2 linked regions of the Homo sapiens genome follow. The protein of the gene in region 1 purifies or fractionates together with the protein of each later gene. This does not show direct contact. Each region holds a gene or a part of one and is shown on either strand. Other genes may lie near its edges.

Evidence for each region.
Region 2: the proteins of SIGLEC7 (region 1) and WDR89 purify together in Homo sapiens (affinity purification with mass spectrometry; 2 studies listed by BioGRID and IntAct, with this or other methods). This does not show direct contact.

What each region holds. Positions count from the first base shown.
Region 1 is NC_000019.10:51,141,992-51,157,635, forward strand, and holds SIGLEC7 (sialic acid-binding Ig-like lectin 7 isoform 1 precursor), read left to right. Parts: upstream 1-309; 5' UTR 310-378; coding exon 379-811; intron 812-2,414; coding exon 2,415-2,693; intron 2,694-2,920; coding exon 2,921-2,968; intron 2,969-3,863; coding exon 3,864-4,130; intron 4,131-4,762; coding exon 4,763-4,859; intron 4,860-5,229; coding exon 5,230-5,326; intron 5,327-10,931; exon of another isoform or gene 10,932-11,071; coding exon 11,072-11,254; 3' UTR 11,255-11,535; downstream 11,536-15,644. UniProt on the Homo sapiens protein: Putative adhesion molecule that mediates sialic-acid dependent binding to cells. Preferentially binds to alpha-2,3- and alpha-2,6-linked sialic acid.
Region 2 is NC_000014.9:63,628,800-63,644,443, reverse strand, and holds the start of WDR89 (WD repeat-containing protein 89), read left to right. Parts: upstream 1-2,572; 5' UTR 2,573-2,640; exon of another isoform or gene 2,641-3,145; intron 3,146-14,822; exon of another isoform or gene 14,823-15,174; intron 15,175-15,644.

The sequences.
Region 1 (15,644 bases):
ACAGCCTGTGACTCAGGGGTCTGGGCAGATGGGAGTTATTTTCACCCTGCAGAAAATATCACCTAAAGGGAAAGGCATTGAGAGGGAGGCAGGAGGTGGGGTGGGCCCTGCATGGGGTGGGAATCTGGGTGAGTCTGTCTCCCGCTCTGGCCTCAGGGACCCAGGAGTGAATGTCGGGTGGTGGACGGTGGATCTCCCAGGGCTGACCCAGCCCTGACAGTGTCTGTGTGTGAAGTTCTTCTTCTAAGGAGGTCACTGTTTTGACCTCACCACCGACTTCCTGTAGGGCCTCTTCTAAGTCTTGAGCCCGCAGTTCCTGAGAGAAGAACCCTGAGGAACAGACGTTCCCTCGCGGCCCTGGCACCTCCAACCCCAGATATGCTGCTGCTGCTGCTGCTGCCCCTGCTCTGGGGGAGGGAGAGGGTGGAAGGACAGAAGAGTAACCGGAAGGATTACTCGCTGACGATGCAGAGTTCCGTGACCGTGCAAGAGGGCATGTGTGTCCATGTGCGCTGCTCCTTCTCCTACCCAGTGGACAGCCAGACTGACTCTGACCCAGTTCATGGCTACTGGTTCCGGGCAGGGAATGATATAAGCTGGAAGGCTCCAGTGGCCACAAACAACCCAGCTTGGGCAGTGCAGGAGGAAACTCGGGACCGATTCCACCTCCTTGGGGACCCACAGACCAAAAATTGCACCCTGAGCATCAGAGATGCCAGAATGAGTGATGCGGGGAGATACTTCTTTCGTATGGAGAAAGGAAATATAAAATGGAATTATAAATATGACCAGCTCTCTGTGAACGTGACAGGTAAGGCACGGGCTCCAAGAGAGGCCAAAGGCAAATGTGATGAGGGCTTTAGGGCACGGCTGAGACGGGACACATGTCCTGGGAGGGGGCCGGGGGTGATGGACTCAGGAGAGGAGCTGGACCAGAGCCTGAGCTTCCCCAGGACCGCACCTTGGATGCCCCTCCTGATCCTGCAGGCCCCTCCCCTCACCAGCCCTGACCCACAGGCCTGACATCCTCATCCTGCCTCTGACGCTGGCATTGTGGCATGTGGGGCCTTATGACTCCTTGTTTTGGGGCCTGTCCTAGGCATGGCCGGGGTTTAGCACCATCCCAGGCCTCTCCCCACCAGATGCCAGAAGCACCCACTCCACCCATGCAGTGAGACAATAACAATTATCTCCACACATTGTTAAACGTCCTGGGGGGTTAAGTCCTCCCCAGTTGAGAGCCTTAGGTCTACACAACCCCGTGACTCTCTCAGGCCAGGCCAGGGAGGAAGCACTTCCTGGCGCAAACCAAGGGCAGCAGAGGCACCTGAGCCTGGACAGGGAGACTCAGCACACGGCCCCTCCATCTCTCATGCCCTGAGGTCCTCGGAGATCCACATTTAGATGCTCAAAAGACAGGAGGGACCTCCACGATGGTCCAGAGGCCGGGAGGGCAGGACCTACGTGTCTGGTGCAGGCCCTGGTGCTCCAGGGAAGCCCGGAGGTAGGAGGTGGGACACGGTCTCTTCTCCTCCCTGGGTGGGTCTCTAGGGTCTCTGAGCTTCAGGGTTTCCTTCACTCTGTGCAGAGGGAACCAGTTCCTATAGCATGTGGGTTTGTAGTTTCTCTTTCGTGCTGGGTTGAGGTCTCCAGCTCCTCTCCAGCCCCTCTCCAGCCCCCTGTGGGTCCCACAGCCCTGCCCCTCCTCTCCCTCCCACTTCTCTGCTCACACAAGGAGCCCAGGAACCCTCTGTCTCAGAGATGCTGCTGCCTCTCTTGTGGGCAAATGAAGAGAGGGACAGTCGGGGCTGGGCTGAGCCTCATTTCCCCACAGCGTCCCAGGCCCCACTGTCAAGATACAGGCTGGAGGTGCTGGAGTTGGTGATGGTGCAGGAGGGCTAGTGCGTCTCTGTGCCCTGCAGTGTCCTTTAACCCTATTACAACTGAACTGACTCTAGCCCTGTCCATGGATGCTGGTTTAAGAAAGGGATCAATATACAATGGAATAATCCAGTGGCCACAAACATCCCAAATGGAAAAGTGCAGGAGACACGGGGCCGATTCCACCTCCTTGGGGACCTGAAGACCAACAACTGCTCCCTGAGCATCAGAGATGCCAGGAAGGGGGATTTGAGGAACTACTACTTCCAGGTGGAGAGAGGACAGATAAGATGGAATTACAAAACGAAGCAGCTCTCTGTGAATGTGACAGATAAGGCACAGGCTCCAGGAGACACCACAGGGAAAGGTCATGGGGGTGGCAGCGAAAGCCTGGGATGGGGCCCCTGCCCTGGGAGAGGGCTGAGGGTGAAGCGAGTTGGGCTCAGGGCAGAAGCTGAACCAGAGCCTGAGCTTCCCCCAGGGCTGTACCATGGATCCTCTGTCCTGATCCTGAGTCCCCCTCTCTTCACCAGCCTTGACCCACAGGCCCAACATCCTTATCCCCGGTACCCTGGAGTCTGGCTGCTTCCAGAATCTGACCTGCTCTGTGCCCTGGGCCTGTGAGCAGGGGACGCCCCCTATGATCTCCTGGATGGGGACCTCTGTGTCCCCCCTGCACCCCTCCACCACCCGCTCCTCAGTGCTCACCCTCATCCCACAGCCCCAGCACCACGGCACCAGCCTCACCTGTCAGGTGACCTTGCCTGGGGCCGGCGTGACCACGAACAGGACCATCCAACTCAATGTGTCCTGTGAGTGCTGAGCCAGGACGCCCTGGTCCCTGATGAGGGGGGGACGTCCCTGAGGGCAGAGGATGGGGTCAGGGCTCGACACTGGGTGCTGGGTCCCAGAATCTGGGCTGGTTGTGGGATCAGGAGGACGCTGGCTCCGCCTTCCCCATTTATGCAGCTCCTGGGGAGACAGGGCCAGTGTCCCCAGCCCTCACAGTGATGCAGGTCTCCATGTCTTTCTGTCCCAGACCCTCCTCAGAACTTGACTGTGACTGTCTTCCAAGGAGAAGGCACAGGTAGGATGGAGCCCCCTCCCTGGGGCTGGGGGAGCAGGGCCTTCAGCTCAGGGCAGGGCCAGGTCCCTCCTCATCCTGGACTCACCCTGGTGATATGAGACTCCCTTGTAGTTGAACCCAGGCCTCCTCCCCATCCTTAGCCTCTGTGGCCACCTGAGCACCTGTCCTCTTCCCCCCACTCCCCTCAGACTCTTGCACACACACCCTCCTCAGCCCTGCAGCCAGGACAGGGGGAAATACATATAGCAGGAGCAGCCTTTGGGCCTCTTATCTTCCATCTCCTGAATATGCCACCTAACTCGTCTTTTTATTTTACCCAATAGTTTTGAGCTACGTTCTTTTGGATACATGCTATAATCACGTGGGCAAAAATTTTAAATTCACAGTAAAATGTGTCCCCAGAATCAACCAGGGTCTGTCCAGGCTGTCCTGAGCCTTGGTTTGTGCACCTGGAAGATCTCAGAGGTGGTTTGATGTCAGCAGTGAGACTGTTTGCACCCTCTTCTAGGGATGTGTGTGATTCCACTGTCTGAATAGTCTCTGATTTTGTGGCATCTCCTAATGGAAGATCATGGCACTAATTTTATCCTACGGCACGAACACTGCAATGAATAATGTTGTATCTACTCCCACAAGGAATATCTAAGTGTATAGGATAAATTCCTAAAAGCACATTTTACCAGTGTCATATGTTCTTTCTGATTTTGAAAGATATGGTGAAGTTGTCCTCAAATAAAGGTGGGCAAGTTTACATTCCCAACAGTGAGCGGTGAACATAAGTATGTCCCTGCACCAGCCTACATCACTCTCTGTTCCATTCCCCAGTCTCATTCTGTATCCTTCCTCCCTGTTTCAATCACTTTGTCTCTTTGAACCTCCAACTTTTTCTCTACAGCATCCACAGCTCTGGGGAACAGCTCATCTCTTTCAGTCCTAGAGGGCCAGTCTCTGCGCTTGGTCTGTGCTGTTGACAGCAATCCCCCTGCCAGGCTGAGCTGGACCTGGAGGAGTCTGACCCTGTACCCCTCACAGCCCTCAAACCCTCTGGTACTGGAGCTGCAAGTGCACCTGGGGGATGAAGGGGAATTCACCTGTCGAGCTCAGAACTCTCTGGGTTCCCAGCACGTTTCCCTGAACCTCTCCCTGCAACAGGAGTACACAGGTGGGTAAGGGAGGGGCTGGAGGAGGAGAACACACCTGCCCCACCCTCATGGGCCACCCACTGCCCCTGAGCTTCAAGGGGGAGCTCAGCTCTGGTCTGTGCTCAGCTGTGAGGCCTGGAACTTCCCTGCAACCCAGGGCACTGCTGTCCTCTTCCTGCCAGGAAAGGTGTGTAAGGCAGGAAGAGGGGAGGAGTGGGTCTTGGAGGGGAGGAGCTGGGGCCTGGACAGGTGTGTTTGGGGAGACACGTGCCTTGCTTTCCAGTGCCTGGACTAGGGTGACACAAGCAAGGCACTCACTTCTGGGCACACGACTAAAAAACAAAAAATAAAACAACTCAGCAAGCAAGTGAAATAATATTGGATGTGATTATCTTTATTAAAAACTAAAAATTATTGCAAAATAATTTGACAGTGAATACAAATCAAAATTTCAAATACAGGCAGGCTGTGCTTACCACTCTCATGCCTCAGTGACCTCAGGAGTTGTCCCTTCCTCCTCCCTCCCATTCTTGCCCTTTGTTTCTGGGAAGGGGGATTAGGGTACCCAAGTTGGGGGCCTTATAGGAAGTGGGAGGAGAAGAGACCCAGTTCTTGGAGTTGGATCACCAAAACAATTCCAATCCATCCTCAGGCAAAATGAGGCCTGTATCAGGAGTGTTGCTGGGGGCGGTCGGGGGAGCTGGAGCCACAGCCCTGGTCTTCCTCTCCTTCTGTGTCATCTTCATTGTGTGAGCACTGACCCTAGGGAGGGAGGGAGAGTCCTGGGGGAGGGCGGACTGGGAGCAGGATCCCTGAAGCCAGAGCTGGAAGGGACTGCATGGGTCAAGAGCTTGGGGCAAGAATGAGCTCACGGGTGCGTGGCAAGAATTTCAAGAGCGCCCTTGTCTGTGGGGCTCCACATCTGTGGTGAACCTTGGGCCCCACCACCCAGGAGGCAGGAGCCTCTGTTTTCAACACTGGGGTCTCTGGGACTGGACCACCCTCCTCCCACCTCAGTTACCCCTCCAGCGCCCCAACAGGAAATACAGGGCAGGGGTTGGTCTGCCCACTGCACCCCGATCTGACCACACTGAAAGGCTCTCTGGTCTCTTCACTCAGAGTGAGGTCCTGCAGGAAGAAATCGGCAAGGCCAGCAGCGGACGTGGGAGACATAGGCATGAAGGATGCAAACACCATCAGGGGCTCAGCCTCTCAGGTGAGTGATATGGGCGTCTCCACACCCAGCATCCAGCTGGGACATCTCCCACAGGATGGCCTCCAGGATTTCTCTGCTTATCATGGCCAAAATTATCTCCTCATCTCCTCCTCCTTCCCACCATCCAGCTTCTCCTGCAGGATTCCCCATCTTGCTGACTGCATGACAGTCCCTCCTACCTACTTTCTCTCGGGCCAGGCATGGAGGAGGAGTTATCTCCTCTCTGTCCTCCCTTTCTTCTCTATAGCTCCACATTCACCAAATCTTGTCCATTTTTCCTCCCTAAGAATGGCTAGCATTGCTCCCACCCCCACCAATCCTAAACTCTCTCAATGCTGAGGCCTGAGGATCTCTGTCTTGGACTTCCTCACCTCCCTGCCTCTTGTGTCCCCTGCCCTGATGGGAGGAATCATTCAGAAGCCATCACTGATCAGTTTCTTTGCATCTGGACAGCTGTTCCCACCCCCAACACTGTCTAGAGCAGAAGCCAGAAAATACTATCTGGAAAGGCCAGATAGGAAATATTTTTGGCTTTCTGGCCTACACAGTCTCATTGCAGCTCCTCAACTCTACTGATGTAGCAGGAAATCAGCCGTAGACCATGTGTAAATGATTAGCTGGCTGTGTGCCAGTAAAACTTTATTTATAAAAACAAGCTGTGGGTAGAATTTGTCCCAAGGGCTCTAGTTTGACAAGCCCTAACCTAGAGAAAAAGCCCAAACTTCATAACTGCAGCCCTGCACATTCTCGTCTCTTAAACATCTACCTCTCTAGCAGGGCTGGAATTAGTGTGAGATGAGTGAGGTCCTGGCCTAGCATGCAAAATTTAAGAAGGTGCCAAAAATCTCAGTAATTGTGATAGTTTTAAAAAAAACTCTTATTTTAGGTTTGGGGGTACATGTGCAGGTTTGTTACATACATAAACTCTGGTCAGAGGGGTTTGTGGTACAGATTATTTTGTCACCCAGGTCCTAAGCCTAGTACCCCACAGTTATTTTTTTCTGTTCCTCTCTCTCCTCCCACCCTCCACCTTCAAGTGGGCCCCAGTGTCTGTTGTTCTCTTCTTTGTGTTCATGAGTTCTCATCATTTAGCTCTCACTGATAAGTGAGAACATGCAGTATTTGGTTTTCTGTTCCTGTGTTCGTTTGCTAAGGATAATGGCCTCCAGCTCCATCCATGTTCCCACAAAAGACATAATCTCATTCTTTTTTATGGCTGCACAGTATTCCATGGTGTATTTGTACCATATTTTCTTTATCCATTCTGTCATGGATGGGCATTTAGGTTAATTTCATATATTTGCTATTGTGAATAGTACTACAATGAACATTTGCTTGTATGTGTCTTTATGGTAGAATGATTTTTATTACTCTGAGTATAAAACCAGTAATGTGATTGCTATGTCAAATGATAGTTCTGCTTTTAGCTCTTCAGGAAATTACCATACTGCTTTCCACAGTGGTTGAACTAATTTACACTCCTGCCGACAGTATAAGTGTTCCCTTTTCTCTGCAGCCTTGCCAGCCTCTGTGATTTTTTTTACTTTTTAAAAGTAGCCATTCTGACTGGTGTGAGATGATATTTCATTGTGGTTCTGATTTGCGTTTCTCTAGTGATCAGCGATAATGAGCTTTTTCTCATATGTCTGTTGGCCAAAAATGTCTGTTCATGTCCTTTGCTCACTTTTTAATGGGGTTGTTTTTCTCTTGTAAATTTGTTTAAGTTCCTTATAGATGCTGGATATTAGACCTTTGCCTAATGCATAGTTTGCAAGTATTTTCTCCCATTCCGGTTGTTTACTCTGTTGATGGTTTATTTTGCTGTGCAGGAGCTCTTAAGTTTAATTAGATCCCATTTGTCAATTTTTGCTTTTGTTGTGATTGCTTTGGCATCTTTGTCAGGAAATCTTTGCCTGTTTATCCAGAACGATATTGCCTACATTGTCTTCCAGAGTTTTTATAGTTTTGAGTTTTACATTTAAGTTTTTAACCCATCTCGAGTTGATTTTTATATGTGGTATAAGGAAGCAGTCCCACTCAATCTTCTGCATGTGGCTAGACAGTTATCCCAGCACCATTTATTGAATCAGGAGTCCTTTCCCCATTGCTTTTTTTTGTCAGCTTTGTTGAAGATCAAATTGTTGTAGGTGTGTGGCTTTATTTCTGGGCTCTCTATTCCGTTCCATTGGTCTATGTGTCTGTTTTTGTACCACTACCATGCTGTTTTGGTTACTGTAGACTTGTAATATAGTTTAAATTTGGGTAACGTGATGCCTCCAGGTTTTCTTTTTGCTTAGGATTGCCTTGGCTATTTGGGCACTTTTTTGGTTTCATATGAATTTTAAAATTGTTTTTTCTAGTTCTGTGAAGAATCTCATTGGTAGTTTGATAGAAATAGCATTGAATGTATAAATTTCTTTGGGCAGTATGGCCATTTTAATGATTTTGATTCTTTTTATCCATGAGCATAGTATGTTTTTCCATTTGTGTCACCTTTGATTTATTTGAGCAGTGTTTTGTAATTCTCATTGTAGAGTTCTTTCACCTCCCTGGTTAGCTGTATTTCTAAAAATTTTATTCTTTTTGTGGCAATTGTGAATGGGATTGTGTTCCTAATGTGACTCTTGGCTTGGTAGTTCCTGATGTATAGAAATACTAGTGATTTTTCTATATTGATTTTGTATCCTGAAACTTTGCTGAAGTTATTTATCATTTAAGAAGCTTTTGGGCTGGGACTACGAGGTTTTCTAGATATAGAATCATGCATCTGCAAAGAGGGATAGTTTAAATTCCTCTCTTCCTATTTGGATGCTCTTTATTTCTTTCTCTTGCCTGATTGCTCTGGCCAGAATTTCCAATACTACGTTAAACAGGAGTGGTGAGAGAGGGCATCCTTGTCTTGTGCTGGCTTTCAAGGGGAATGCTTTCAGCTTTTCCATATTCAATATGATGTTGGCTCTGCGTTCACCATAGATAGCTCTTATTATTTTGAGATATGTTCCTTTAATACCTAGTTTACTGAGAGTTTTTAACACGAAGCGATGCTGAATTTTATCAAAAGCCTTTTCTGCATCTATTGAGATAATCATGTGTTTTTGTCTTTAGTTCTGTTTGTGTGGTGAATCACATTTATTGATTTGTGTATGTTGAACCAACATGAAGCCGACTTGATCATATTGGATTAACCTTCTGATGTGCTGATGGATTCAGTTTGCAAGTATTTTGTTGAGGATTTTTGCATCAATGTTCATCAAGGATATTGGCCCGAAGTTTTCTTCTTTTGTTGTGTCTTCGCCAGATTTTGGTATCAGGATGATACTGGCCTCATAGAATGAGTTAGGGAAGAGTCAGTCTTCCTCCGTATTTGGGAATAGTTTCAGTAGGAACAGAAGGAGGCTCAGATCTGACATTTATTGTGTGATTGAAGAGCCTTCCAGGCAGAGGGAGGAGCAAAGCAAGGCCCAGGCACAGGAAGAGGAAAGGAGAGGAGCCATGGGACATCTGTGTGATTAGACAGAGGGAGGCAGGACTGAGAGCAGGAAATGACTTTGGAGGAGTTGAGCCTATGTGAATTGTGTCTGACTGCACAGGCTACTGTGAGCATTTGGAGAGTTTTGAGCAGAAGGACATGATCAGACGAGATTGGGTCCGTTCAGGGTGGTATAGCTGTAGACCAGAAGAACATGATCAACTTTCATTTTCATGGGATTCCTCTGGCCACTGTGTGCAGAAGAGACCGTGTGTGTGGCAGGGGAAGGAGAGAGCATAGGAGGTAGACAGGAGGCTGGTGAACATCCCAGGCAGAAGGTGGTGTTGGCTGGAACCAAGATAGCAGCAGTGGTAGACATGACTGTCTCCCAGATGAATTCTGCAGTGGAACCTACTGGGATTTGTTAATGAATTGGAATTAGAATGTGAGCCACAGAAAGGGAGCAAGAATTACTTCCAGATTTTTGCCCTGAGCAGTGGGAAGAATGGAGGTGCCAATCATTGAGGCTGAGAAGATTGCAGAAGAAATGGATTTGGGAAAGAAAAGGAGGAGTTCAGATTGAATAGGTTGAGTTTTGTGTGTCTTTGGACAAGAACGCGGGGGTTTGAATTATACCACTGGATCAAAGACTATAGTCAGGAGAAAGGAGTGGGCTGGGGGTACAGATTTGGGAGTCATTAGCCTATTGATGGCATGAAGCCAACACAGTGGATAAGATCACAAGGCAAAGGTAAAGAAGAAAAGAACCCGGGGCTGCTCTGATATTTAAGGTCAGGGAGACCTGAAGCAATTGGCAAAGAGGTTGCCAAGAAGGTGAGGTGGACCCAGAAAAGCATGATGTCCTATAGTTGAGTCAAGAAGGCCTTCTGTGTAGGGAAGGTGAGCAGCTGGGTCCTCTGCTGCTGAAAAGTCCAGGAAGGAGAAGACTGCAAGGTGGACATTTAGACTCAGCCACTTAAGTGGTAGTCACAGTGACCTTGATAGTAGCAGTGCTTAGACTTGGTATGTGTGTGAATATTAATTTGAGTAATCAAGAGAGAATCTGGCAAGCAAAATCACTGACAGTTCCATGGAGCATCTTCTGCACAGGGGAGCAGCAGGGAAGGGCTGCGATGAAGGAGGACCCTCCCAGGCAGCCTCTGTCACTCTCTGCTGTGTGAGTCTGTATTAGTTTCCTGTGGCTGCTGTGACAAATTACCATGCATTTCCTGGCTTCCAACAACACACATGGATTAAAGTTCTGAAGGTCACAACCCCAAAATGGGTGTCACTGGGCCAAAATCAAGGCATTGGCAGGCAGGGCTGGTTCCTTCTGGAGGCTCCAGGGGAGGATGCAATTTCTCACCCTTTCTGGCTTCTAGAGGCACCTGCATTCCTTGGCTCAAGTCCCTTCCTCTGTTTGCAAGGCAAGTAGCCTGGCATCTTCCAATCTCTCTAAGCCCTCCTCCTTTCACTTGTAAGGACTCCTGTCATTCCACTGGGCCCACCCAAATAATCCAGGATAACCTCCCCATGTCAATATCCTTAACCTAGCTCCATCTGTAAAGTCCCTTTAGCAATGTAACGTAACAGATTCACAGGTTTCAGGGGATTAGGGTATGGACATTTTGGGGAGCAGTTATACTTCTTATCAGAGGATATAATTTCTTTGACTGAGTTGTCCTCCCCATACCACCGAACTGTGAGCTTCCTAAGAGCAGGTGCCCCATCCAAATCAAGGCCCTGTAATTCTCTCTCACTTAGCCTCTTCCTGCCCATCTTATAATTCACACATAGATATTCGTTTGTTTGACAGTCATTTTTGCCAAATTCCCTCAATTAAAAAGTGAGTTTCAGGAGGTCAGGGCCAACACCTACTGTGTCCACCACAGTCCATCCAGCACCCGGATCAGGGCTTCACACACAGAGGGCCCCAGCAGGACTCCAGGCTTTGGGGTCAGAAGGAAGGGACTGGATTGGGTCCCGGCATAACAGGGAGTTTGGGTACGCTACTTTCTTCATGGAGTTGTTGCGGGAAGTTAATAAGATTAATAAACACCAAACAAGTTGCTCAATAAGTGTTAAATATTGCAGGAAAGTATAAATGAAGGAGATTTCTATAAAATGAACGTGGGATAGAGGCAGGAACTCATGAAGTTTAATTCTATACAGAGGAATATATCCGAACCAACCAACCGATCAAACAACTTGTGACTCTCCCTGCCTTATCCTATTTCCACTGCTCTGCTCTGACTCTCTTCTCTCTCTCCATTCAGGGTAACCTGACTGAGTCCTGGGCAGATGATAACCCCCGACACCATGGCCTGGCTGCCCACTCCTCAGGGGAGGAAAGAGAGATCCAGTATGCACCCCTCAGCTTTCATAAGGGGGAGCCTCAGGACCTATCAGGACAAGAAGCCACCAACAATGAGTACTCAGAGATCAAGATCCCCAAGTAAGAAAATGCAGAGGCTCGGGCTTGTTTGAGGGTTCACGACCCCTCCAGCAAAGGAGTCTGAGGCTGATTCCAGTAGAATTAGCAGCCCTCAATGCTGTGCAACAAGACATCAGAACTTATTCCTCTTGTCTAACTGAAAATGCATGCCTGATGACCAAACTCTCCCTTTCCCCATCCAATCGGTCCACACTCCCCGCCCTGGCCTCTGGTACCCACCATTCTCCTCTGTACTTCTCTAAGGATGACTACTTTAGATTCCGAATATAGTGAGATTGTAACGTGTTTGTCTCTCTGTGCCTGGCTTATTTCACTCAACATAACATCCTCTAAGTTCATCTGTGTTGTTTCCAATGACAGAGTAATGTACTGAATAATTCAAAATAGCTAAAAGAGAGGAGTTTAAATGTTGTCACCAAAAAAAAAAAAAAAAGATAAAAATTTGAGCTGATGGATGTGCTAATCATGCTGACTTGATCGTTCCATGGTGCATCGAGGTGCGGGAGCCTCACGGGGGCTGCGTTCAGGTCGCTCAGGTACTCAGGGCAGGACTGGAATTTAATCCCTGCCTGATTCTGAGGTCTCTTCTCTCACCCGGCACCCAGCACTGAGTGAAGCAACCACTGACTGGGCACCCCTTAGCCATAAGTTTGCAGCATCTCCGTTGACTCCATGGCCTCTGGTGAAGGAATCCGAGAACCTGGACACACAGGAGCTGAGAAAGGAGGCGCCTGAAATTACAGCCCAGCTCTGCGCATGGCCTGCCCCAGCCTGCATAGCTCTGATCAGCAGATAGAGCTTCCAATGGCCATGCTGCCCATGATTTCATCCCCAGGGCCCTGGTTGGGTCTGCAGACCTCCGCCAGGAGCCCCCATCTCCGGACCTTGGTGTGACTGGGCTGGGTCCCTCTCTTGCTGGTCCCCTCCAGAGGGACCCTGGACCCTTTCCAGCCTCACAGGCCCTATGGAGACCCCAGCCCTTCTCCATCACCTTCTCCTCACCTGCTTGCCCCTCTGGTCTTGTCCTCGGGTCTGAGGACATGCAGCCTGATTTGCCCTATGGGGAGAAATCAGGGAAGAAGTCACATCTCAGGTCCATAAGAAACACGGGAGAGTCCTGGGTAGAGAGGTGAAGGGGCCCAACTTCCTGCCAAGTCCAAGCCCAAGCCCTCCCCATGTGGGACCCTAGGAGGTAGAGGAGATGGTCTGCGGTCTTCACCTCTCCACTGAGAGTCCTCAACATCCTCATACTTTTAAAGATTTCCAAGGGCACAGGAGGCAGACGCCATTGTGTGGGGGAAAGAGGCCGGGTGAAGCTGAGGAAGGAGTTGACACTGTTGGCGCAATTACCAGGGGTAAGTAACAACAATGATGGAGTTAATAATAATAATTTATTTCACACTGTTATGTCATGCCATAAGACGTGCCATCAACTCTGGAAATTAGGTTAGTTATTATTACCCCTGGGGGCAGGGAGAGCAGCTTGTTTATCTTTTGTTATTAGAGGCCCAAGAATCAAGCCAAGAGCTTGGTGAAATTTGTGGGGAGTAGAGATTTGTCATGGTCATGGAGCTATGACAAAATCCCGTCCCATCCCTGCATCTTTCTAATTCCTCATCTTGGAGGGAGCTGAGGGGAACAGTTGAGGCCACAGGCTGTGGGTTCGGCCTGCCCGGGCTTGAATCCCACCTCTTCTGTGGGTTAGCACTGAAGCCTTAAATAAAATACTCAAACTCCATGGGGCTTAGTTTTCTCACCTGTAAAGTGGAGGTGAGGCTAATCACATTCACTTTCTCCATAGAGAGACAGTGAGGGTCAAGCAGGTTAGAATGGTGGTGGGCACATGGTAAGTGCACAGCTAATGTCCACCACTCTTATCCCCCTTATCCCCCTGTGACTCACCCTGACTCTGATCTGAGGACTCCAGAGGATTCATAGAGGAGGCATCTTTGGACCCAGACCTGAGAGGACTGGGAGATTTCACCCAGAGGTTGTGAGCATGTCATGGCAGGGTGGAGGTGGCACTCCTGAGGGTGGGCACTGCCTAGCAGGGCATGGAGGCAGGGAGATGTGCAGAGCATGAGCCTGGACGGGAGCTGCTGCACTCACGGGGGGCCTGGATCCTGACGTCCATGTACATGATCAGCTGTGTCACGGGGTTTTCCACAGTGCATTGGTAAGTGCCCATCTGCTACCAGGCCAGACTCAAGAGATACAACTTTGCATATGAGAAGTTTAGGAAGGAGCTGTTGTGGATCCAGCAGTACTTGAGATCTGGGAAAGAATAGGAGACACACTCCATTTCCACCTGGGAGCCGATCTCAGCCGTCACGATGCCATTGAAGGCATCAGGATTGCCCCTCAGCAGCAGATAGTCAGGCCCATCTGCAGAGACAGGGAAGGAGGCCTGAGGCTGTGTTTCTGACCCTTTGGGGTCCTGGGTACCACCTCATGAGGTCCTCCTCCAGCCAAGAGGTTCCCCACTGTGCACCCTGAGCTGACCCCTAGACCTGCCCCAGGCAAGGCAGCTGTGCCAACAACAATAACCATAATAAGAGCACCTGCCATGATCAGGGACCTACTAGGGGCCAGCCCCATGGTAGCCCTTTACCTCGTAATAAAATCATTGGAGTAAAAGCAAACACATGGGGCCTACTGTGTGCCAGACACTGTTCTAAGCTCTGTGCCTGTCCCCACATTTGTTGAATTCCCAGAACAACTCATGTGATTGGTTCCACTATTGATCCATTTTATAGATGGAAAACAATGAGGCTCGGAGGAGAGGATTAGGACTTCATGACTGCAACTGACACAGAAGGATTGAGCCAGTCTCAGGGCCTGGGGGCAACCGCCCTGAGCAGCTGAAGCCTCTGGATCCTGGGTCTTGGTTCCAAGCCTCTGACCTGTAAACAGCTGTATGGAGATCAGAAATCCTTCACGCTTCAACCCCAGCTTCCACACAATGGGCGCCATAGCCTGTGCATTAGGAAATCTAACACACCACTAAAGTGTTTCCAGAAGGAGATGTAAAGGTGATTTTAGAAGTGTGATTATTTTTTTCAGGTGAAAGATGTGGAAGAGTTTGATAAACTCTGTGAACACACCTGGAACACTGGAAGAATCTAAGTGTTGATGTATTTATAAGCTCAGTAGATTAGATTTCCAAGAGCTGTCCGAGAATTTGTGAGGATCTTGCTGGGTTGTGAACTTGCCCCAGTAGGCAGCTGAAGGGCTATAAAGAAAAAAGAATGTATGGAATGTATAACTGACTCTTTAAATCAAACTCTCTGTTTAAGGGAGCACAGTCTGTTCAATTTCAGTAAAAGAGAGTGACAGTGACTATAGTAAGTTTACAAGAAAAGAAGAAAGAAATCAATGAGTGGAATTTGAAGGGTCAAGGGGTTTGAACACTTAATAAACTGAACATCAATTTAAAAAATAATTGGTTTTAAGTAGTCCCCTATTTACACAAAAGCAGACCTCAGCAAAGGCACACTGACCATTTCTAATCTGAGAAGTGAGGACTGGGGTCCCTATTTCACATTTGAGTGCATCAGTTCTGAGTAGTGAGGGCAGCTCCCAAGTCCACAGAGCTCAAGAGCTGGAGCTGATTCCAACCCAGACCAACCTGGCTGCAGGCTGGCCCAGGATGTCTCTGGCCTAGTCCCATTTGCAGATCCGTGGTGAGTCCCAGAGGTGGACTTGTGTGGCAAAGAGCTGAACCCTGCCAAAAAGAGGCCTGGCCTTTGCTCTCAGCTACTGGGAGGGAACCTCTAAGTCCCTGGAATGTCTCACCTGATTAGAGTGTCTTTGTTTACCTGAAAGCCTTGGACTTCACCAAATAGTCTAATAATATAACTAACGATAGGACTTTGGGTCACTGGTATCAGCTCTATCTGTGGAGCAGCTGAAACTAAGGTCAGCCATGTAGACAGTTATCCACATCTATGTGACAAAGCCACACCAGGACATCAAGGCTCAGGTGAGTGTCCCTGGTTGGCAATGCTCTATGCATGTTGTCACATGTCATGTCAGGAGGAATTACCACAGTCTATGATTCTACTGGGAGGGGACAACTGGAAACTCCCCATTCGGAATTCCCTGGACCCTGCCCCATGCTCTTCTCACCTTGGCTGACTTTAATCTGTATCCTTTTGCTGTAATGAGACATCACATGAGGATAACAGCTTTCAGTGAGTTCTGAGTCCTACTAGTGAACTATCAAAACTGAATGTGGTCAGGGACTCCCCAATGTGCAGCTGGCATCAGAAGTGAGGGCAGTCTTGTGAATTGCTCCCTAACTACTCAGGACTGCTGGATTAAAGGCTGTGCAGGTCGTTTGAGGATAGAAAGGATTCCTGGCAACACTGCCTGGTTTGAACCAAGCACTGCCA
Region 2 (15,644 bases), on another chromosome or scaffold:
AGTGCTGAGAGAACACTTAGAATTTAAATCAGCCAAATGTGGCCACAGTTTAGTCACTCAGCTGATCTATCATTCAGCTAAACAGCGCTAACCACAGTAGCCTTGATTCAGTTTTTAATGGTGTTTATTCTTAGTTATATGACATTTAATTAACATGTTAAATGAACTACTGATTTAAAATAAGAGGCAAAAGGAAAATACCATTAAAATGCTAGCTAATGAAAAGCATTAAAAATATAATTCTGCATTTTTGCCAGAGTCATCTTCACCCATCCATATGTTTCACCTACTACATCACATAGAATATTACAAGGATAAATATATCGATGATTTACACCCAATTTCGCTCTTCATTTATTGGGAATAAAAACGAGCATAAGCTTGTAATCCCAGCACTTTGGGAAGCCGAGGCAGGAGCCTCGTTTGAACTCAGGAGTTCGAGACCAGCCTGGGCAACATAGCGAATCTCTGTCTACACAAAAAATATGGCCGGGCGCAGTGGCTCACGCCTGTAATCCTAGCACTTTGGGAGGCCGAGGCAGGTGGATCACAAGCTCAGGAGTTTGAGACCATCCTGGCTAACACAGTGAAACCCCGTCTCTACTAAAAATACAAAAGATTAGCCGGGCATGGTGGCATGTGCCTGTAGTCCCAGCTACTTGGGAGGCTGAGGCAGGAGAATCTCTTGAACCCGGGAGGCGGAGGTTGTAGTGAGCTGAGATCGCGCCACTGCACTCCAGCCTGGGCGACAGAGCGAGACTCCATCTCAAAAAAAAAAAAAAAAAAAAAAAATCTGGGCTTGGTGGCGTGTGCCAGTAGTCTCAGCAATTCAGGAGGCTGAGGTGGCAGGCTCACTTGAGCCCAGGACGTCGAGGCTGCAGTGAACCATGATCCCACCTCCTGCCAGTGCACTCCAGCCTGGATGACAGAGCGAGACCCTGTCTCCAAAACAAAACAAAACAAAGAGCTAAATCGGTAATGTTTCCTTTACAAACAACCTGAAACCTTCTCTAATCATTTAGAAATAAGATACAAAAATGACAAAAATAATTCGATATTTTAAACAAAAATGCAATAATTACAAGCATCAGTAATGAACGCAGTTTTTGCTTAGCTTTAATTCTGTAAAGTGTACTTAATTTTAATCTAGAAGTGTAGAAGTATTACATACATCCGAAATCATGTTTTTTTCTTCTACAGTCGAAAGTTTGTATTACATGTAAAATAGGAAAAAAATATTAAAATTTTTCGAAAGCGAAAAGTCTACTCAGCAAGTTTTTGGTATTTATTAATGGTTTTACTTTTGCTAGACACAAAAATGAAATACCGCTAAATTAGCTCACAGAAGAGTTCAGGATTCTATAGACTCAGGAAAAGCCTGTCCTAAAACTGTTTTAATAAAGGCTGAAAATAGACACTATAATACAGTCTTTAATAATATACAATGTGTATTCCTCCTGATGGTGGTCTTGCTTGACATTTTAAGCATAGCCCTATTTTCCTGTGAAGATAGCAGCCAGTTCTGCTTCATGTCATAACAACACTTGATTCATGTAAGCAGCTGCTACCTATGCCATCACAGTACACATAATTGCTAAATGTAGGGTTCAAATAATCGTAAATGGACACTAATATGAAAATCAGACTGTTTTGTTGTAACAGCAAAAGTTTTAGAAACAAATAATTTTAGTATCTACTTAGTACAGTAAGCATGAACATATAGTATACAGCTAGGCACAGCAGTAAATTGTTGGAAACACTAACATTTATTGTTTACGAACATACATGCAGTGTTTACACATTTCTTAAATGTTGTCTTTAATGCTGCTGATAAACGAAAGGATAAAAAGTCCAACAAACCACAATAAATGTCAATGGGTGTTATTAACAACATGAAAGAACTCAGTAGCAACAACCACATTTAAAGCTACAGGACTCGAAAGTTCCGGACTACAAATCCCAGAGTTCCCTAGAGCCCAGGCGGAGCTACCTTCAAACTGATCGCTTTTTCACCCAATGACAGCCAGAGAATCCCTAAACCACATTCAGCCCGGCCTGAAGGGCTGGTTTCTTCGCGTGAAAACAATAAGGTATTACGTAGACTTTCTGAACACGAGTGGTAGTTTCAGGGCCTGAGTCTAACTACTAAATTATTTCTCCCCGCATTAGTCTCCTAGTCATCTTAATAACTCTCTACCCAACTCTGGCTCGGTGGAAACTCGGAACGTCTAAATGCTGAAACTCACGTAAATCAGTACCAGCGGATGCATCCAGTCAGCCACGAGGAAGGCGGAATCCGCCTTATTCTTGCCCTTTATTGGCCACGCATCCCACCAATGGGGCCATTAAACTTCCGCTAACGCAGCGTACGGCGTGGTGGTGTGAGCGTTGTACGTACGCTGGGTCTACGAAGGGGCAGGCGTTCTGCTTTCGTCCAATCGGAAGCTAGCAAGAATTCCCCGGGCCGCTATGCCCCACTTCTTTCGCGTCGCGTTACGGGCCGCCTCTCTGCAGCCGACCAATCCTCTTGATTTTCTTGTGCGCATTACCCAATCAGAGAGGTCGAGGCGGGGTTCCACTTGACCGCTCTAAGCCGCCGCGCAGCCTGCGTTTTCTCCGGTACAGGTTGAGGCTACTAAGGTACATTTTGCTGGGCCAGGCTGGGCGGGTCCCCGGGATGGGCAGCCCTCTCGACGAGCGGCGACGCCGTGGTTGAGTCTAGAAAGCTAGAGTTGCTGGACAGCTATCGCGGGAGCGCGGAGGGAAGTGGGAGGTCTGGACGGAGTGTGCACGTGTTGGCAGTCTCGCTCCGCCGTCGGAGCCACCAGGTCAAACCTGTGCTGGCCCTGGCCAAAGAAACTTCTGCGGGTCAGGCTGCTGTTGCCGGTGCAGTTCCCAGTACTTCCTCTGGGGCGTTTTTCAATAAAAGCCAAACGCCCTTGCTCATTTTCAGGGAAAGACCTGTTTCCTCCTGCTCTTTCCTCTCCACGGATACTCTCCCCACCACTAAAAGGGTTTAGTATAATCCTTTTGTAGGCCAGAAAGCAGATTTTCACTTGGGAAGAGACGACCCGTAGTATGGGATGTGGTATGATACCAGCAACTGGTCTATTATATCATTTAAACCACATGGCTATCTAAAGAGGTAGGTACTGTGAGTGTTCTCATTTTCACGCGAAGCAGTGTTAGACATTACTCATTCTTGTGTTTTCTTTAGCTTGTCTCTGACAAATTGTGGCATTCAGCTTCCATGGATGTAAAATTAAAAGATGGTATAATTTGTAAAATGTTGCTCCTGTTTTCTTTTTTGTTTTTCTTTTTCTTTTTCTTTTTTTTTTTTTTTTTTGAGATGGAGTCTCAGGCTGTCGCGCAGGCTGGAGTGCAGTGGGGCGATCTCGGCTTACTGCAACCTCCGCCCCCCGGGTTCAAGCGATTCTCCAGCCTCAGCCTCCCGAGTAGCCGGGATTATAGGCGCCTGGCACCACGCCCGGCTAATTTTTGTATTTTTAGTAGAGACGGGATTTCACCATACTGGTCAGGCCGGTCTCGAACTCCTGACTTCAGGTGATCCACTCGCCTCTGCCTCCCAAAGTGCTGGGATTACAGGCGTGAGCCACCGTGCCCGGCCGTTTTCTTTATTAATTTGAAATTATTTAAAGTCAATAAAAGCCTGGGCGCGGTGGCTCACGCCAGTAATCCCAGCACTTTGGGAGGCCGAGGCGGGCGGATCACGAGGTCAGGAGTTCGAGACCAGCCTGGTCAACATGGTGAAACCCCCGTCTCTACTACGAATGCAAAAATGTGGCGGGCGCCTGTAGTCCCAGCTACTCGGGAGGCTGAGGCAGGAGAATCGCTTGAACCCGGGAGGCAGAGGTTGCAGTGAGCCAAGATCGTGCTACTGTACTCCAGCCTGGGCGACAGAGTGAGACAACGTCTCAAAAAAGAGAAAAAAAAAAGTCAATAAAACACACCTAGAAGTGAATTAATCGATTGTTACCAAGGTAAAATGATCTAGAGGAAAGACATCGCAGTAGGCACCAGTTACTGACCTTTGACTGGACAAGTCAGCATCAGCTTTTTCACCTGTATAATTGAAATAAATACCAAACTTGACTACTTAGAGTTCTGAGGATTAAATAATTTAATAGATACAAAATATGTTACCGATGAAAGCCACGTGACTGTTTCTGCTTTTCAAATTCTTTCTTGTGGAGCCTGGACTGCACTGCAACCTATGGCCGAGTAAAACAGTGGTAACTTGCAGTCAAGTACCATTTAAGTGAGAAATCCTCTGAAACGTCTATGGACTGCTTATCTCCTTGTTCAGTATTCAGGAATACTTTCCTGTGAATGCAGCTATGTTACTTACCTGGTTTGTATTCTTACCTTAGATTGTTGTAGCTATTGTAAAGCAAAAGTAAGATCAAGCCCATGTAACTACTTTTTGGGTTCTTTTCTCTCACTTTGTAAATACAGGGTGTTTTTCCAGACGGGAGTGCGGTGGCACAGTCTTAGCTCACTGCAGCCTCGAACTTCTGAGCTCAAGTGATCCTCCTGCCTCAGCCTCCCAAGTGGCAGGGATTACACACGAGCCACTGTGCCAAACCCGTGAAGTTTTTGAGTTGTACTTTTGTACTAAAGTCATGACTACTTTTTCTGCAACTGACACTATGAGCTGCAAATACGACTGAAGATGCTACTGCTTTTTTACTTTTTCCCTATGTGCTTTAAAGAACTACATTTTCAGTGATTTCCATGTGTTTAAGATATTTTCATTTACTTGGTAGAAAATACAAGAGAATTTTGATAAATCTGAACTGGAATGGTCTTTATGTTAATTCTGTTCAATATTTTAGGGCAGATTATGTACAGATTATCGCCAAACTGTCAAAAGGGTGTATTTTGTTCATATAGCTACTGTAACAAATTACAACAGATTTAGTGACTTCGAATAACACACATTTATTCTTTCTGCCTTTGTTTCTTTCTTTTTTTTTTTTCCTTTGGTGAAAAGTACACACTTAAGAAAGGGGAGTGCAGATGTACTCAAGAGAGTCACCTCTTCCTTTTTTTTTTTTTTTTTTTTGGTAGAGATGAGGTCTCGCTATGTTGCCCAGGTGGGTCTCAAACTCCTGGGCTCAAGCAGTCCTCCCACCTTGGCCTCCCAAAGTTCTGGCATTACTGGCATGAGCCACCATGCTCAGCCTCATTTATTGTCTTTTAGTTCTGGAGGTCAGAAGTATGAAATCAGTTTCACTGGACTAAAGTCAAAGTGTTGCAGGCCCAATTCCTTCTGGAGGCTGTGAGAAGAAAATCCATTTCCTTACCTTTTTCAGCTTGTAGTGGCTGCCTGTCTTCCTTGGCTTGTGGCTCTTTTCTGCACAGGACATCATGCTATCATCATACCACTTTCTCATCTGTAGTCACATCTCCCTCTGCCTCTCTTATGAGGACATTTGTGATTATATTAAGGACCCCCCCAGATAAACAAGGATACTCTCTCCATCTCAACATACTTTGTAAAGTCCCTTTTGTCATATAATGAAACAGTCATAGATTCCAGGAATTAAGACCTTTGTATCTTTGAGGGCCAGTGTTCAGCCTACCACAGGAAGGTATAAAGAAGAGTAAAACATCCTATCCCATAAAGTCTCACAGGGACTATAAGAGAAAAACAAATTCACAGTAAATGGTTGCTGAGTTAGACTTTCTTATTACTGTGAAAATAACCTAAGTCACCACAGGTTGGAGCTTCGCCAATTTTTCCACTGGAATATCTTTAATAGCAAAGGTAAATGAATATTCCTGTGATATTTGGAAACAAAGCCTGAATTAATGCTTTAGAAGAGTAAAATTTCTTTGAATTCTAATCTTATAATTTAAAATTTTATGTGACTTTTGCATTCAGTTTTATATGTTCATGGTTGATGCTGTTTTGAATTATATTTAAGCATTGCTGTTCTAGAGAAAAGACTGTTTATTCTGTAGTTTCATTATTGTTTTACTTTTAAATTTATTTTTAGAGATAGGGTTCTCACTATGTTGCCTATGGTGGACTCAAACTCTTGGGCTCAACTGATGTTCCCACGTAAGCCTCCTAGCTGGGACTATGGGCATGCAACCCAGTGCCCAGCTAATGTAGCTTCTTGTAATTTTCTTTTTTGGGGGGGCAGTGACTTTTTTTTAAAACTTACTTTTTGGCCAAGAACGGTGGCTCATGCCTGTAATCCCAGCACTTTGGGAGGCCGAGGCGGGTGGATTACCTGAGGTCAGGAGTTTGAGACCAGCCTGGCTAACATGGCAAAACCCTGTCTCTACTAAAAATACAAAAATTAGCCGGGGATGATGGTGCGTGCCTGTAGTCCCAGCTACTGGGGGGCTGAAGCAGGAGGATCACTTGAACCTGGGAGGCGGAGGTTGCAGTGAGCCAAGATCGTGCCACTGCACTCCAGCCTGGGTAACAGAGCGAGGCTGTTTTGAAAAAAAAAAAATTTTTCCGTAAGTTATTGGGGTACAGGTGGTATTTGGTTATATGAGTAAGTTCTTTAGTGATGATTTGTGAGATTTTGGTGCACGTATCACCTGAGTAGTATACACTACACCATATTTGTAGTCTTTTAATCCCTTGCCCCCCCTCCCCCGGCCAAGTCCCCAAAGTCCATTGTATCATTCTTATGCCTTTGTGTCCTCATAGCTTAGCTCCCACATATCAGTGAGAATATATGATGTTTGGTTTTCTATTCCTGAGTTACTTCACTTAGAATAATAGTCTCCAGTCTCATCCAGGTCATGGCAAATGCTGTTAATTCATTTCTTTTTATGGCTGTGTAGTATTCCATTATATATATACACATATATATACACACACATATATATACACACACACACACCCACCACAGTGTCTTTATCCACTTGTTGATTGATGGGCATTTGGATTGGTTCCACGATTATGCAGTTGTGAATTGTGCTGCTATAAACATGCGTGTGCAAGTATCTTTTTCAAATAATGACTTTTCCTCTGGGTAGATAACCCAGTAGTGGGATTGCTGGATCAAATGTTAGTTCTGCTTTTTAATTCTTTAAGGAATCTCCACACTGTTTTCCATAGTGGTTGCACTAGTTTACATTCCCACCAGCAGTGCGGAAGTGTTCCCTGTTTACCACATCCACGCCAGCATCTCTTGTTTTTTTATTCTTCACTTATGGCCATTCTTGCAGGAGTGTGGTGGTATCACATTGTGGTTTCGATTTGCATTTCCCTGATCATTAGTGATGTTGAGCATTTTTTCATAGGTTTGTTGGCCATTTGTATATCTTCTTTTGAGAATTGTCTCTTCATGTCCTTAGCCCACATTGTGATGGGCTTGTTTGTTTTTTTTCTTACTGATTTGAGTTCGTTGTAGATGCTGGATATTAGTCCTTTGTCAGATGTATAGATTGTGAAGATTTTCTCCCACTCTGTTGTTGTCTATTGACTCTGTTGACAATTCCTTTTGCTGTGCAAAAGCTCTTTAGTTTAATTATGTCCCAGCTATTTATCTTTGTTTTTATTGCATTTGCTTTTGGGTTCTTGGTCATGAAATCCTTGCCTAAGCCAATGTCTAGAAGGGTTTTTCCAATGTTGTCTTCTAGAATTGTTAGTTTCAGGTCTTAGGTTTAAGTCCTTAATCCATCTTGAGTTTATTTTTGTATAAGGTGAGAGATGAGGATCCAGTTTCATTTTTCCTCCATGTGGCTAGCCAATTATCCCAGCACCATTTGTTGAAAAGGGTGTCCTTTCCCCACTTTATGTTTTTGTTTGCTTTGTCGAAGATCAGTTGGCTGTAAGTATTTGGGTTTATTTCTGGGTTCTCTATTCTGTTCCATTGGTCTGTGTGCCTATTTTTATACCAGTACCATGCTGTTTTGGTGACTATGGCCTTATGGTATAGTTTGAAATCAGTTAGTGTGATGCCTCCAGATTTGTTATTTTTGCTTAGTCATGCTTTGGCTATGCGGGCTCCTTTTTGGTTCCATATGAATTTTAGGATTGTTTTTTCTAGTTCTGTGAAGAATGATCGTGGTATTTTGATGGGGATTGCATTGAATTTGCACATTGCTTTTGGCAGCATGGTCATTTTCACAATACTGATTCTACCCGTCCATGAACATGGGATGTGTTTCCATTTGTGTTGTCTATGATTTCTTTCAGCAGTGTTTTGTAGTTTTCCTTGTAGAGGTCTTTTGACTCCTTTGTTAGGTATATTCTTTTTTTCTTCTTTCTTTTTTGAGATAGAGCCTTGCTCTGGCTCACTGCAACCTCCACCTCCCGAGTTTGAGCAGTTCTCCTGCCTGAGCCTCCCAAGTAGCTGGGACTACAGGTGTGCACTACCACGCCTGACTGATTTTTTTGTATTTTTGATAGAGATGGGGTTTCACCATGTTGGCCAGGCTGGTCTCGAACTCCTGACCTCAAGTGATCCACCTGCCCCGGCCTTCCAAAGTGCTGGGATTATAGGCTTGAGCCACTACCCAGCCTGTTAGGTATATTCCTAAGTTTTGTTTGTTTGTTTGTTTTTGCAGCTATTGTAAAAGGGGTTGAGTTCTTGATTTGATTCTCTGCTTGGTCGCTGTTGATGTATAGAAGAGCTACTGATTTGTGTACATTAATCTTGTATCCAAAAGTTTTGCTGGATTCTTTTATCAGTTCTAGGAGCTTTCTGGAGGAGTCCTTACAGTTTTCAAGGTAATTGACCATGTCTTCAGCAAACAGTGACAGTTTGACTTCCTCTTTATTGATTTGGATGCCCTTTATTTCTTTCTGTTGTCTAATTCCTCTGGCTAGGACTTCCAGTAGTACATTGAGGAGGAGTGGTGAGAGTGGGCATCCTTGTCTTGTTCCAGTTCTCAGAGGGAATGCTTTCAGCTTTTCCCCATTCAGTATTATGTTGGCTGTGGTTTGTCATAGATGGTTTTTATTACATTAAGGTATGTCCCTTATATGCTGATTTTGCTGAGAGTTTTAATCATAAAGGGATGCTGGATTTTGTCAAATGCTTTTTCTGTATCTATTGAGATGATCATGTGATTTTTGTTGTTAATTCTGTTTATGTGGTACATCACATTTATTGACTTGTGTATGTTAAACCATCCCTGCATTCCTGGTATGAAACCTACTTGATCATGGAGGATTATCTTCTTGATATGTTGTTGGATTCAGTTAGCTAGTATTTTGTTAAGGATCTTAGCATTTATGTTCATCAAGGATATTGGTCTATAGTTTTGTTTTTTGGTTATGTCCTTTCCTGGTTTTGGTATTAGGGTGATGCTGGCTTCATAGAATGAATTAGGGAGAGTTCCTTTGTTATCTTGTGGAATAGTGTCAAAAGGATTGGTACCAATTCTTTGAATGTCTGGTAGAATTCTGCTGTGAATCCATTTTTTTTTTTTTTGGAGACAGAGTGTAGTGGCACAATCTCAGCTCACTGCAACCTCTGCCTCTAGGTTCAAGCGATTCTCCTGCCTCAGCCTTCGAAGTAGCTGGGACTACAGGCACGCACCACCATGCCCAGCTAATTTTTTTTTTTTTTTTTTGAGATGTAGTTTCGCTTTTGTTGCCCAGACTGCAGTGCAATGGTGCGATCTTGGCTCACCGCAACCTCCGCCTCCTGGGTTCAAGCGATTCTCCTGCCTCAGCCTTCCCAAGTAGCTGGGATTATAGGCATGTGCCACCATGCCTGGCTAATTTTGTATTTTTAGTAGAGATGGGGTTTCACCATATTGACCAGGCTGGTCTCAAACTCCTGATCTTAGGTGATCTGCCTGCCTCAGCCTCCGAAAGTGTTGGGATTACAGGCGTGAGCCACTGTGCTCAGCCTTGTTTTTTCTTTAAGCTATCTATTTCCCTGAATATTTCTCCCTTCACTTCTCTTTTTTTTTTTTTGAGAGGGAGTCTCGCTCTGTCGCCCAGGCTGGAGTGCAGTGGCACGATCTTGGCTCTCTGCAACCTCTGCCTCCTGGTTCAAGTAGTTCTCCCTGTCTCATCCCTCAGAGTAGCTGGGATTACAGGCACCCACCACCAGGCCCAGCTAATTTTTGTATTTTTAGTAGAGAAGGGGTTTCACCATGTTGGTCAGGCTGGTAACGAGCTCCTGACATCAGGTGATCCACCCGCCTTGGGCTCCCAAAGTGCTGGGATTACAAGTGTGAGCCACCACACCTGGCCAGTTTTTGTGTTTTTAGTAGAGACAGGGTTTCGCCATGTTGGCCAAGCTGGTCTCGAACTCCTGGACTGAAGTGATACACCTGCCTCGGCCTCCCAAAGTGTTGGGTTTATAGGTGTGAGCCACTGTGCCCGGCCTGAAATTTAAGTAATTATTAATATGGTAAACATCTTTCTATTTGGAGATTGGAATTATGTCCTGATGATTTTTTACAGTTCTCGTAATTTTAATTTTTGGACCTCCTGCTAGATGGCAGTAGTAATCAATGCCAAGGGCCAGGAAGGAAACTTTTAAAACGGTTTGATAGCTTAAGTCTAATTCTTATGTTTAGTGAAGTTGCAACTGACCGTACATGATTTTCAGTTCTTTTTATCCTTCACATCTGATCTACAAAGCACATGTGAACTTTTTATCCTCTTAATATCCGTTTTTTTCTGGATAGTTCAATAATTATGCCTTTTGTTTGTTATTTCTCTGATATCAGGGTCTTTTACTGTGTTCAGTAGAGAGGAAATGAGTTTAGAACTTAGTAGATTCTGATCTTCCCTCATTATAACACCAAAGTGGTTAAAAGAACTAGTTCTGCTATATCTTTACATGAATATTATACAAGCTATAAATATTTACATTTAGGGATGTGTTTTGATTTCTATTTCAACGTAGTCCTTTTGAATGGTCTCCTAATTTGGAAAATTAAATAGTGAATCAACCTCAAAATGCAAAACAAAGTCTGTAGCTGTCAATAAATATTTATAAAATATTGCTTTATTGTCTGAGAGATATGTTTACATGATTATAAACTATCCAGTGTCAGGAAAAGCCTCATTCTGGCTTAATCTTATTTCATCTACCAATTAACAGTGGAAATTTTAAAAATCATTAATATGTTAAAGTGTCTTTCTGCTTGATGAATTAGGGTAGCATTTTTAGGGGAACATTTGTATTGTGAATTCACCTTAGAAGCATCTAGTCTATATACATACATAAATATATATATATACTTACACACATATTTATACATAAAAGGGGTGGAAATCCTGTCAAATACTAGTTTATTCTGCAGGTTATCATTTGACATTACATATTGCATTTCTTTAACATTCTCTATACTCCCACCTAGTGGTATATGAGTGCTGCTTTTGTGCCAGGCACCATTTAACATGGTAATTAATTTATGAAACCCTATGGCATTGATATTGCTATCTCCTGTTTAAACTACAGGAAACTGAAACATATAGTTAGTAAAGCCAGGATTTGTGCTCTGGCAGTCTGACTCTATACCCATTCTCAGCTATCATGCAATACCTGTCTCAGCTTCCTCATCTAAAACACTGTAATAAAAGGACTATCTTTTAGGATTATTGGGAGGGTTCATTGAAGCAATTCATGTGCAGAGGCTGACATGGTAACCGAGAATGGTAATGATCAGTTAATATTAGCTGTCATTTGGCTACTTTTCTGGTTTTCTTCCCATTCTTTTTTCATTTTTCTCTATTATAGGGTGCTTGGCCTGCTGCTTGCCATCATTCTGTATAATTCATCTGCTATCATTCTGTATAATTCATCTGTATAATTCATCCAGTTTCCTAGTTTGGGTTTTTGTTTGTTTGAGACGGAGTCTTGCTCTATCATCCATGCTGGAGTGCAGTGGTGTGATCACGGCTCACTGCAACCTCCACCTCCCGGGTTCAATTGATTCTCGTGCCTTAGCCTCCCTAGTAGCTGAGACTACAGGTTTGCGCCACCATGCCTGGCTAATTTTTGTATTTTTTTAAGTAGAGACGGGTTTCACCATGTTGGCCAGGCTGGTCTTGAACTCCTGGCCTCAGATGATCCATCCACCTCAGCCTCCCAAGGTGCTGGGATAAGGGGCAGGAGCCATCACGCCCGGCCTACTTTCCTAGTTTTTAAGTGCTGCTACTTCCTATAGTCTGATAACAGAATCCCGTACTTTCCCTCTGAGTTGTAGACTGATGTATACAAATGTTTGTCCTTGGCCATCCCCAGAAGTCCCTCAGGCTTATATGAGTAAAACTAAGGGCATTTCTTTGTTTTTTTTCCCCCCATTTTCTTGATTTTTGGATTTACTTTTTTTTGTTTTTAGTTTTTTTTTTGTTTGTTTGTTTTTTTGAGGCAGAGTCTCCCTCTGTTGCTCAGGCTGGAGTGCAGTGGTGCACTGTCGGCTCACTGCAGCCTTCACCTCCCAGGTTCAAGCAATTCTCCTGTCTTAGCCTCCCAAGTAGCTGGGATTACAGGCGTGTCCCATCACGCCCGGCTAATTTTTCTGTTTTTAGTAGAGACGGGTTTTCGCCAGGTTGGCCAGGCTGGTCTCAAACTCCTGGCCTCAGGTGATCTGCCTGCCTAGGCCTCCCAAAGTGCTGGGATTACAGGCGTGAACCACCGCACCTGGCCTGGATTTACTTTCTGACTCAACTCCGCTTGGTCATCCAATGCAAGAATCAGCCTGGATTCCTTCTGCACCTGTTCCTCCCCCGTGCTTCCAAATCGAGTCAGTGCCAAGCTTCACTAATGTTAACTTGCTGAATATTTCTCTGGCCAGGTGTGGTGGCTCACATTTGTAATCCCAGGTACAAGAGACTGGGAGGTTGAGGCAAGAGAATCACTTGAGCTCAGGAGTTCAGGAACAGCCTGAGCAACATAGCAAGACCTCATCTCTACTAAAAATTAAAAAAAAATTTTTTTTTTTAATTGGCCAGGCGTGGTTGTGTGCACCTGTATTTTCAGCTACTTGGAAGGCTGAGGTGGCACGATTGCTTGAGCCTGGGAGATTGAGCCTGCAGTGAGTGGCAGTTGCACCACTGCACTCCAGCCTGGGCCACAGAGTTAAGACTCTGTGCAAATAAATAAATAAATAGTCAAACTATAATACAGTATTCACAGTGAATAGAAGCAAAAAGAAAGAAAAGAAAAATATTTCTCAAATTCGCCTTTTTTCTCCATTCCTACTGTTGGGAACTCCATTATCTCTTTTAGTTTGATTTTTAGTTGACACATAATGTACATATTTCTGGGATATAGTGTGATGTTTTGATATACGTATACTTCGTGTAATGATCAAATCAAGTTAATTAGTGTCTCCGTCATCTCACATGTTGATCACTTTGTGGTGAGAACATGCAACAGTCCTCTCCTATCTATTTTGAAATAGACAGTACAGGCTGGGCCCAGTGGTTCCCACCTATAATCCCAGCACTTGGGAGGCTAAGGCCAGAGGATTTTTTAAGACCAGGTCTGGCAACATAGTGAGACCTTGTGTCTACAAAAAAAATATTAAAAAATTAGCTGGGGCATGGTGGCATCACCTGTAGTCCCAGGTACTCAGGAGGCTGGGGTGGGAGGATTGAGACTGCAATGAGCTGTGTTTGTGCCACTACACTGCATCCTGGACAACAGTGCAAGACTGTGTCTCACAAAAAAAAAAAAAAAGGACAATACATTTAAAAATATGGAATACTTCATGAATTTTCATGTCATCCGTGTGCAAGGGCCATGCTCATCTCTGTGGCCTTCTGATTTTAGTATGTGTGCTGCCAAAGCAAGCACTCCGTATCCTTGTCTGGACTTTTTTTTTTTTTTGTGAGACAGAGTCTCGCCCTGTCGGCCAGGCTGGAGTGCAATGACACAATCTTGGCTCACTGCAACCTCCACCTCCTGGGCTCAAGCAATTCTCCTGCCTCAGCGTCCCGAGTAGTTGGGATTACAGGCGTGGGCCACCATCCCGGCTAATTTTTGTAATTTTTAGTAGAGACGGGGTTTCACCATGTTGGCCAGGCTGGTCTCGAACTCCTGACCTCAGGTGATCCTCCCGCCTTGGCCTCCCAAAGTGCTGTGATTACAGGCGTGAGCTACCGCGCCCAGCCCCTTGTCTGGACTTTTTAATGGCCTCTATGGTCTCCCAACCTTCAGCCTTACCTCTCCCTATTTAAATCCATCTTCTACATTGTAAATGTGAGCAATTTAATATGTGACTCTGGGTTGGGTGCAGTGGCTCACGCCTGTAATCCCAGCACTTTGGGAGGCCGAGGCAGGTGGACCACCTGATGTCAGGAGTTCGAGACCAGCCTGGCCAACATGGGGAAACCCCGTCTCTACCAAAAATACAAAAATTAGCCGGGCATGGTGGCATATGCCTATAGTCCCAGCTACTTGGGAGGTTGAGACAGGAAAATCGCTTGAACCTGGGAGGCAGCAGTTGCAGTGAGCCAAGATCACGCCATTGCACTCCAGCCTGGGTGACAAGGCGAGACTCCATCTCAAGAAAAAAAAATGTGTTTATGACTCTGAATATGTAATATTTTTGCTACCGACCCCTTCCAATTCATTTATTTATTCAAATAGTTTAACGTAGCTGCTGTAGGTAAAAATAAGATACTGCTTTAGTCATTCCCTGTAACACACTGAATGTTCTAACTCCTTTCTTACCGAATTGGTTCTGTGAGAAGAAATAAAAAAAATAAAGTTTGACGTTTTAGTTGGGTATACAAGATAGACAACTCTAAGACCTGCCCTGCTGCTTGCTTCAATGTCGTCTCCTTTCCCATCCAACATCACACATTATGATCAGCAATACTAAACTTTCTCTTCTTCCCTTGCTTCCAGTACTTTTCATGCTTGTCTGTCCTCATAGTCAGCATATGAAAATGTTCAGTGACCAGACATGAGTAACAGACATTGTGGACTGTGGAAGATCCTGAACGCTAAGTCAAGAAAGTAAACTGTTCCTGAGGGAGAAAGGAAGAACCACTGATTGTCAGACTTTGCTATCATTCATGGAAATTGGGAGCATGGGTTGAAGAGAGAAACTAATGAAGTAAATTTTGGATAATCTGAATTTTAAGTTCTGGCAGCACATGTAGCAAGCATTTAAGAATACAAGAGCTTCAGAAAGAGAATAAAGAGATGAAGTTTGGAGTTAAAGATCTGGAAGTGATTATACTAAAGACTTGATCTGGTATATGCAAAATTAATATTTGAAAATGGAAAGGGACAAATGTTCTGCTTAAATCCACTAATGCTTTGAGGGCAGAATCAAGTTCTAGTTATCACTGTCCCTCTAGCACCTAGAAGAGTGCCTAACACTGATGTTTAATTATTAAACATTCTACTAAGCTTGGGTTGCAGTGGGATTCAAGGAGAAGGCAACCCAAGAAAGTGATGAAGGGAAGAACATTTTAGGACATCACCAGGGATGGAGAGTTGGTATTTCAAACTTTGACTAATAAGAGTTTGTGTAAAGTCCTTACTACAGGCAAACATCGTTTTTTGTTTTTTGTTTTTTTTTTGAGACAGGGTCTCACATTGTCACCCAGGCTGCTGGAGTATAGGTGCCCCCAGACTCAAGCAATCCTCCCACCTTAGCCTCCCAAGTTGCTGGGACCACAGGCATGCACGTCACCATGCCTGGCTAATTTTTTGTACTTT